2 linked regions of the Homo sapiens genome follow. The protein of the gene in region 1 interacts with the protein of each later gene in a biochemical or structural test. Each region holds a gene or a part of one and is shown on either strand. Other genes may lie near its edges.

Region 1 (3,915 bases):
AGTTTCAGGGAACCACAAAATCTGTGACTGGAAGAACCCACAGCTCCTATGAGCCATTCTGAGTACTCGTGATCTGCCTTATTCGTGACTTTTCCCATCGGTGCCCTGGGGAGCCCTGCAGGACAGCTGGGCCCAGTTCCTCTGGGACCTGGGAAGCCTAGAGCAGGTGGATGCTGAACAGAAGCCTGCCCCTCCTTGAATGGAGATCCAGGGCAGGGATCAGGAAGCCCTAGGCAGGTCTGCAAGGACTTCAGGGAAAGGGAGCTCTATGCAGAGAGCTGGAGAGACATCAGCAGGGAAGGGCTAGCAGGTCCCTTTTGAGACCGCCACGTTCTCTGTCGTCTCCTGTGTCCTCTTCTGCCCACCTGGGCGTGTGCTTCCTCTCAGCATCCTTCTCTCTCTGTGGGCCTGTGTCCGTGCCTGTGCCTAACTGCATGCCCCCACCCCCATGGTCCCTGTCCTGGGCTTCAGCCCTCCTCCTCGCTTCTCTGTCACGTCTCAGCTTCATTGTCTATTCTCTTCTACTTCCTGTCCTCCCACAGGCTGCCTGCCGACACTACGGCCACTGTCGAGGACATGCTGCCTTCTGTCACCACCGTCACCACTAACTCTGACACTATCACCGAAACCTTTGCCACTGCTCAGAACAGCCCCACCAGTGAGACCACCACCCTGACCTCCAGTATTGCCCCGCCGGCCACGGCCACGCCTGACTCAAACTCTGTACCGGCTGGCCAGGCCACCCCTTCCAAGGGGCCCAGCGCCTCTGCCCCCTCCCCGGCCCCAGCTTCAGCCCCCAAGGTCGCCCCCCTCGTTGACCTGAGCGACACCCCGACCTCAACCCCTGCCGCTAGCAATTTGTCTTCTAGTGTCCTGGCTAACCAAGGGGCTGTCCTCAGCCCAAGCGCCCCTGCTGGTGTCGGGGAGGCCTCTAAGGCTCCTCCGGCCAGCAAGCCCACCCCTGCACCAGTCCCCACCCCGACTGGGGCAGCCAGTCCTCTAGCAGCAGCGGCTGCCCCTGCCACAGAAGCCCCTCAGGCCAAGCAGGAGGCTCCCAGCACCAAAGGCCCGGACCCGGAGCCCACCCAGCCCGGAGCCGCGAAGAGCCCGGCCGAGGCAGCCACAGCCCTTGCTAGCCCGAAGAGCGAGGCTGCCTCCGTCAGCACCACAAACCCTTCCCAGGGCGAGGACTTTAAAATGGACGAAGGGAACTTCAAGACCCCAGATATTGACCTTGCAAAGGATGTTTTTGCAGCCCTGGGCTCTCCTGCTCCCGCCGCTGGGGCCAGTGGACAAGCCCCTGAGCTTGCTCCTTCCACTGCAGACAGCTCTGTTTCGCCTGCGCCAGCAAAGACCGAGTACGGCCTCTCTTTGTCTGCTGTCATCGGGTTGTGTCCTGTGGTGGTGTGCATTTGTGCTGTGCTGTGTCCTCCTTGTTAGATGTGTCTTCAGCCTCATCCAGGGCTTCTCTGAGGCGACCGTCAACCAAGGGGCTGGGATAAGGCAGAGAGAGCAGGACAGGCAGCTGGGCCCCAGGAGCAGCCGCCTGCTGGCTAATTAGGCCATGTTAATTATGTTTTATCCTTATCATCCTAGCAGCGGCTTCTGTTTTCCCTGGGGGAGCCCTTGCAGTCAGGCCACTGATGAGAATAGCTTGGGAAGCAGGCTAAGAAGGCCAAGGTGCCCTTATCAGCCACCCTGGGGCCCCCAGTCGGTGTGTTATTCAGTGCCAGGCTGAGTCCCTACCAGAAAGGCACTGATGTGCAGGAAGAAAAGAGGTAGGCCCCAGGCCCGTGGCAGGGGAGGGTGCAGTTCAGAGGTCCCCTCACACTGTGGCTCAGATGCTCACCCTCCCCTCCCAACCCCGGCCCCCAGCCCACTCTTGCTTCTCCTGCTCTTAGAGTGGCTGGGAAGACTCGGGGCTCCCCAGCATCAAATGGCTGCTGGGTCTCAAAGTTCAAGAGAAAGGCCTTAACCTTTCAGGTTTGTAAGTGTCTTGCCAAAATTCAGTGGCACCAGCTGAGGCTGGGGTCTGTGCCTGTCCCCATGCATCCTCAGACCCGACTCCCTTTCCTGGAACTGATGGAGGCAGAGTCAGACCTAGATTTTTATAGAGGCTCCTATGGCTGCTCCCCAGATAAGCTGCCATGCTGCCACCATGGGCTGCAAGGGGCTCTCGCCAGGAGCCCTGAATCTCAGCATCGGGAGGGAAAAGGACTCTGATAGCCCTGCCCACTCAGCTGCCCTCAACTCTCGCATAGCCACCAGGCCCACTCTAGTACCCCACCAGGCTGCCATGAAAAGCTGCCTCCATCAGTGTTTTCTCACCCTACCCAGGCAGGCCCTAGAGGCATCATCCTGCAACAGCACAGGGTGGGGTGGGGAAGGGACAGGCAAGAGTGGGTTGCAAAGGGGCCCCTGAAATCAGTGCTGGGAGCCCAGCCCAGCCCAGCAGGCTGCATTTACATCCAGCTGAGCTGTTGCCACTGCAGCTGGTCAGGGTGAGGAGGAGCTGCCTCTGCTGCCCCCTTCCACCACCCCAGGTAAAAACACAGCCTCTGGCATCAACTTAGGGCTGGAAGAGGAAAGGACTCGTTCTTCTGACTCAGTGCTTCTCAACTATGGCTGCACATTAGAGTCACTTGGGTGCTTTTAAAAGTCACTGTGTCCGGACCAATTAAATCAGGATTTCCGCGAACACAGCTCGGGCTTGGGTGATTTTTAGTGCTCCCAGGTGATTTGACGGGCAGAGGTTGGAGCCGGGTGCTGTCACTGGAGAACCCCTCCTCCTCCCTGCTGTCCCCAAGGCCTGGATGCAGGGGCGAGATGTCTGCAGACCGTGGTCTCAGTGGTTCTGTTTTCCTGATTCTCTGCAGGAAGGGCCCCGTAGAAGCAAAGCCAGAGTGCCAGGAGACAGAAACGAAGCCAGCGCCAGCCGAAGTCAAGACGGTCCCCAATGACGCCACACAGACAAAGGAGAACGAGAGCAAAGCATGATGGGTGAAGAGAACCGAGCAAAGATCAAAATAAAAAGTGACACAGCAGCTTCACCAGAGCATTTCCAACACCACAGACACACACACGCACGCACACACACAAACACACATGCACACACACACATCTCATTTCTCTAGTGTCTTTTGCCTTTAAAAAAAACTAAACAGATAAAACATGGGAATCTCCTTTTTGTAGGTTTATAGAAAGGGTCCCTTTGTTGCACACTCACTTGTAAGAAAATGAGACAAAAAGGTTAAACCCACAGCCAAACTAGGACACTCCGTTCCCTGAAACCGTTAAAAAATCAAACAAAAGGACCCCAAATTAAGAATCTAGGAAGCTCAGAAACGAAATCTAGGTTCAGGAAGACCACACTTGGTGTTACCCGATTGGCACAGACCAGTTTCAGAGAAATACTTTCAGGCACTAAGACTAATCGAATGAACAAAGTCCACAGTTTATTTTTATACTTTCAGTCAAGTTTGAACTCTGTAAAACCTCATAAATAAGTTATAATTTCTGTTCACTTTGTATTTGTTCAGTATGCAAAGTGTGTCACCCTTTCTAGCTGAATTCAATTCCCACGTAGACTCTTATTTTATAGGACGAATGCCAAATTGCAGCTTCTGGGGGTAGATCTCAATTTGCAGTATTCAGACTTCTTTTTCTTTCTTTTACATTCTTTTTTCTTTCTTTCTTTCTGCCAACTTTGTTTTCCAGTGTTTACAAGGTGACAAATGTTTGACTTTGGTTGTGTTTAAATGTCCGTGTAAAATAGCTGCCTTTTATTTTTTAAGGTAACAAATACCACCTAGAGGTAGGTAGGATCATCCCACGCTTGCTTTAGCACAGGACAACTTTACAAAACATGATTGTTTACAGCTGCTCTTCCCCTCTTTTCTGATCTGCAGTTTTTGC
Region 2 (3,915 bases), on another chromosome or scaffold:
AGAAGATGATTCCTTAGGTTATTGACCATGCCATTGAGACTGAGAAGATGATTGAAAAGTACAGCGGGCTAGCCTCGGACCTGCTCACCTGGATCGAGCAGACCATCACTGTCCTGAACAGCCGCAAGTTTGCCAACTCGCTGACGGGCGTCCAGCAGCAGCTGCAGGCCTTCAGCACCTACCGCACCGTGGAGAAGCCGCCCAAGTAAGGGCCCTGGCACATGGGAGGGTGGTCCTCAGTGGCTGGGAAACTGACCACCAAAAGGTAGAGCCAGGTTCTGGGCCTTATGAAGTGTGTCCACAAGGCACACCCTCAAGATTAGAGAGCTGTATGTGTGTCACCTGCCTTGTGCCCCTCTTCACCACTCTTCTCCCAAGCCATCAGCTTAGAGAAACCAGCATTGATGAGAAACCTCGACTCACGACCAAAGACAGTGGCTTCTCCCAGATATCCCTGAGGAGGAACAGGAGGGAAATCATAGGCTTCTGAGTCTCTTTGAAGAACCCAGGCTGGAAAGCTCCTCTCTGGTCTGCCACTGAGCTGTGGGCTTGTTTTCTGATGACCTCTGTGCTCTCAGCCCCTGAGCTCTCTGCATGGGGCCTTATGGATTGTCAAGTTCATCCTTCTTTTTCTCTCCCATCTGTCACTGCTCAGCAACAGACCACTTAGCCTGCTTCTCAGGACCTCTGCCCCACCCTAGTGTGTGCAGAGCCTGTGTGCATATGCTTACACACATGTGCATGCAAACAACCGTGCACACACATGCATACCTGCATACACATAACCATGCATACACACAACTGTGCACCCATGAACATGCATGCACACACAAACATACACACACAACCGTGCACTCATACACATACACCTAACTATACATGCATTTATGTGTGCACACATAACTATGCACCCATGCACATATATATGCACATACAACCACATGTACAAATGCACATACATATATACAACCATGCATGTGCACATGCACACACAAACATGCACACATACACACATACACACGGGGCATTCCAGCTTATCTGCCATTAGCTTGTCCAGATCCTCTGAAATAGGCTTCTAGCTCATTGATGGTACCTTCTGCTCTGCTCTTCCCCCCATCTCCCACACTCTGCATTCATGACTTTCAAATGGGGAAAGGTGAAATGCTGAGTCTAGGATATACTATAAACAAGTATCTGGTTTCTAGTCTGACAGTAACCCATTTCTGAAGCCCTAAATCCAATACAGTTAGCATCCTCTATGAGTCTACCAGTCACTGCACACAGAGGTGTTATCTCTTGGCTGTGTAGACAGTGCTTCACGGTCACAGTTCTCTTAAGTGCCTGTGAGCACTGAGATCCATTAGGCTGGGCTCAGGGTGGGGACCTTGCATATAGCTGATCCTTGACTGCCAGGTCAAGGATGCAGAAATGGGTGGACACTTAGGTACATGCAGAAATGTGGAAGTACCTGATACCTGGAGCCTGTACCCCATATGCTAGACACCGATCCTGCTGACAATTCTTGTCTCCTACACCTACAAGCCTCTCAGAGCCCAGCCTTTCCTGCCTTCTGGGAAGCATCTGGCCTGTAGGACTTGTCAGGAGATCTGGCTCATTAGGACCTGGGTGAAAGCTGTTTTCAGTGCAGGATGCTCTCCCACGGAATATGCTGCTTCTGGGGTTTTATTGACTCACTTAATAAGGAACTGACCAGAGAGCTAGTAAGAAGCCCTCATCACTTGCAGCACAGAGAAGGTTTTTTAAAATTTTTTTTGTATTGATCCGTACAACTTGATATTTACAGGAATTACCAGAATACCTCAGCTTCCCATGTAGAGGCAAATGATAAATGCTGTGGTGGCCATTGTGTTTTCTCTGGTTTATATTGTAAAGACCCAAACCCCTAATAGATCTCAGTTGGTGAAAAGGATAGATGTTTTAACAGGTAAGCAGACCTACAGATTCTCTTTAGTTTTTCTGTGTTTTTAAGGGAAATATGCTTTGCTATCTACGCTTCAAGATGCCACAGTTCCGTGTTGACTTTAGCAAAAAAATTTGGCCATGAGATCTTAACATCAGTCTTCCTACTTCTGTTTTCTTGACAGGTTTCAAGAGAAGGGGAATCTGGAAGTTCTACTTTTTACCATCCAGTCCCGGATGAGAGCCAACAATCAGAAAGTGTACACACCCCACGATGGGAAACTAGTGTCTGACATCAACAGGGTACCACAGCATTTTCCGTTATGCATTGACAGTAGATTGATTGAATTCCCGATAAGGACACAGTGAATGGTCATTGGACCAGATTAAACCAAGCCACTTTCTTTGATGTTATTAATCCACATGTTGACTATTTGGGGGAGTTATCGAACCTGGTTCTGAGGGGTCAGACTCTACTCCCCCACCCTCCTTCAATCCCCCTGTTCAGATGCCCTGCATCCCTGAGTCCTTTTTTTTTTTTTTTTTTTTTTTTTTTTTTTTTTTGGAGACAGGGTCTCACTCTGTCACCCAGGTGGTAGTGCATTGGCACAATCACAGCTCACTGCAGCCTCGTCCTCCTGGGCTCAAGTGATCCTCCCACCTCAGTCTCAGTAGCTGGGACTACAGGCATGCACCACCACACCTGGCTAAATGTTACATTTTTTATAGAGACAGAGTCTGGCAATGTTGCCTAGGCTGGTTTTGTACTGGGCTCAAACAATCCTCCCACCTTGGCCTCCCAAAGTGCTGAGATTACACGTGTGAGCCATCACACCCAGCCTCCGAGTCCATTTTTTTGGAGCCAGTTTTGTAGCCTATCCTCTGTAGAACCTTGAGTTTGTCTTTGAAGATGGAATATTAACTACTTATAACCAAAGGGAAATGCCTATGACATTTCAGAGGCTTGGAGGCTTACCACCACCTGGCAGTTCATATTGAACGGAGGTAGCCATTAGTCAATAAGAACTTACTGAGCATCCAGAGAGGTGAAAAACATTATTTTGGGCCAAGAGTCTGAGGCAGGTTTAGGGGAAGAGGGAAGTGAGACTCATGAGCAGTGCCCTCTGAATCTTTGATGGGCCCAGACATGAAAGCCAAAGGCTTTTATTGATCTTTAATCTGCTACCACGTCACCCAAGAGCATCAGGCTGTACCTTGATTCCAGAAATCACTCAGTGTTGGGTGAAAGGGGTGGAGCCCCCAAAGTGAGGCATTTCTCCTGTGCCCCAAGAATTCTCATTCCATCCTTTGTGCAGGCCTGGGAAAGCCTGGAGGAAGCTGAGTATCGGCGGGAGCTGGCCCTGAGAAATGAGCTCATTCGGCAGGAGAAGCTAGAGCAACTGGCCCGGCGCTTTGACCGGAAGGCCGCAATGAGAGAGACCTGGCTCAGTGAAAACCAGCGCCTCGTGGCCCAGGTAATGAGGGACATGCTTTGGGTGACAGGAGAGGGGACATTCTTCAGAGCCCCCAGCTCTTGGCTGGGCTGGAGTCCAAGCTGGCTTCTCACAGCCTCTCCTCGTGCCTTGCAGCACAGCTCCCCCGTGATCCAGTGGATCAAGATTTGCATCTGGGGAGGAGCTCTCCAGGATTTATTAAATCTCATTTTTAGGAAAGAGCCTTGGAGTCTAGAACTGGCCGCTGAAGTTGTCTTATGTGGGCCTGTAGTGTCAACTACAGCTGGGGTTTCAGTTGATGTTAAATTGTGGTTCTTGGGGGATATGGTAAAATCACAGACTGCACCTTGTCTGTGTCAGGCATGCCTTTTGGACTCTGGTCTCTGGTGCTGTGACATAATTCTAGCTAAGAATTGACCCCAGGGCTGATTCTTCATCAGAGCATCTGTTCCCTCTCACTTAAAGCTTGGAATCAAATTAGATTCTGTCCAGAAAGGGGGCAACAAGTATTCTGAGAGCACTGGAGAGTGTATGCGCACCC

Evidence for each region.
Region 2: the proteins of NCAM1 (region 1) and SPTB form a complex in vitro, tested with the Homo sapiens proteins (one study listed by BioGRID).

The regions. Positions count from the first base shown.
Region 1 is NC_000011.10:113,272,391-113,276,305, forward strand, and holds part of NCAM1 (neural cell adhesion molecule 1 isoform 2 precursor), read left to right. Parts: intron 1-542; coding exon of another isoform or gene 543-1,358; exon of another isoform or gene 1,359-1,511; intron 1,512-2,876; coding exon 2,877-2,997; 3' UTR 2,998-3,915.
Region 2 is NC_000014.9:64,796,037-64,799,951, reverse strand, and holds part of SPTB (spectrin beta chain, erythrocytic), read left to right. Parts: intron 1-17; coding exon 18-205; intron 206-2,105; coding exon 2,106-2,223; intron 2,224-3,236; coding exon 3,237-3,395; intron 3,396-3,915.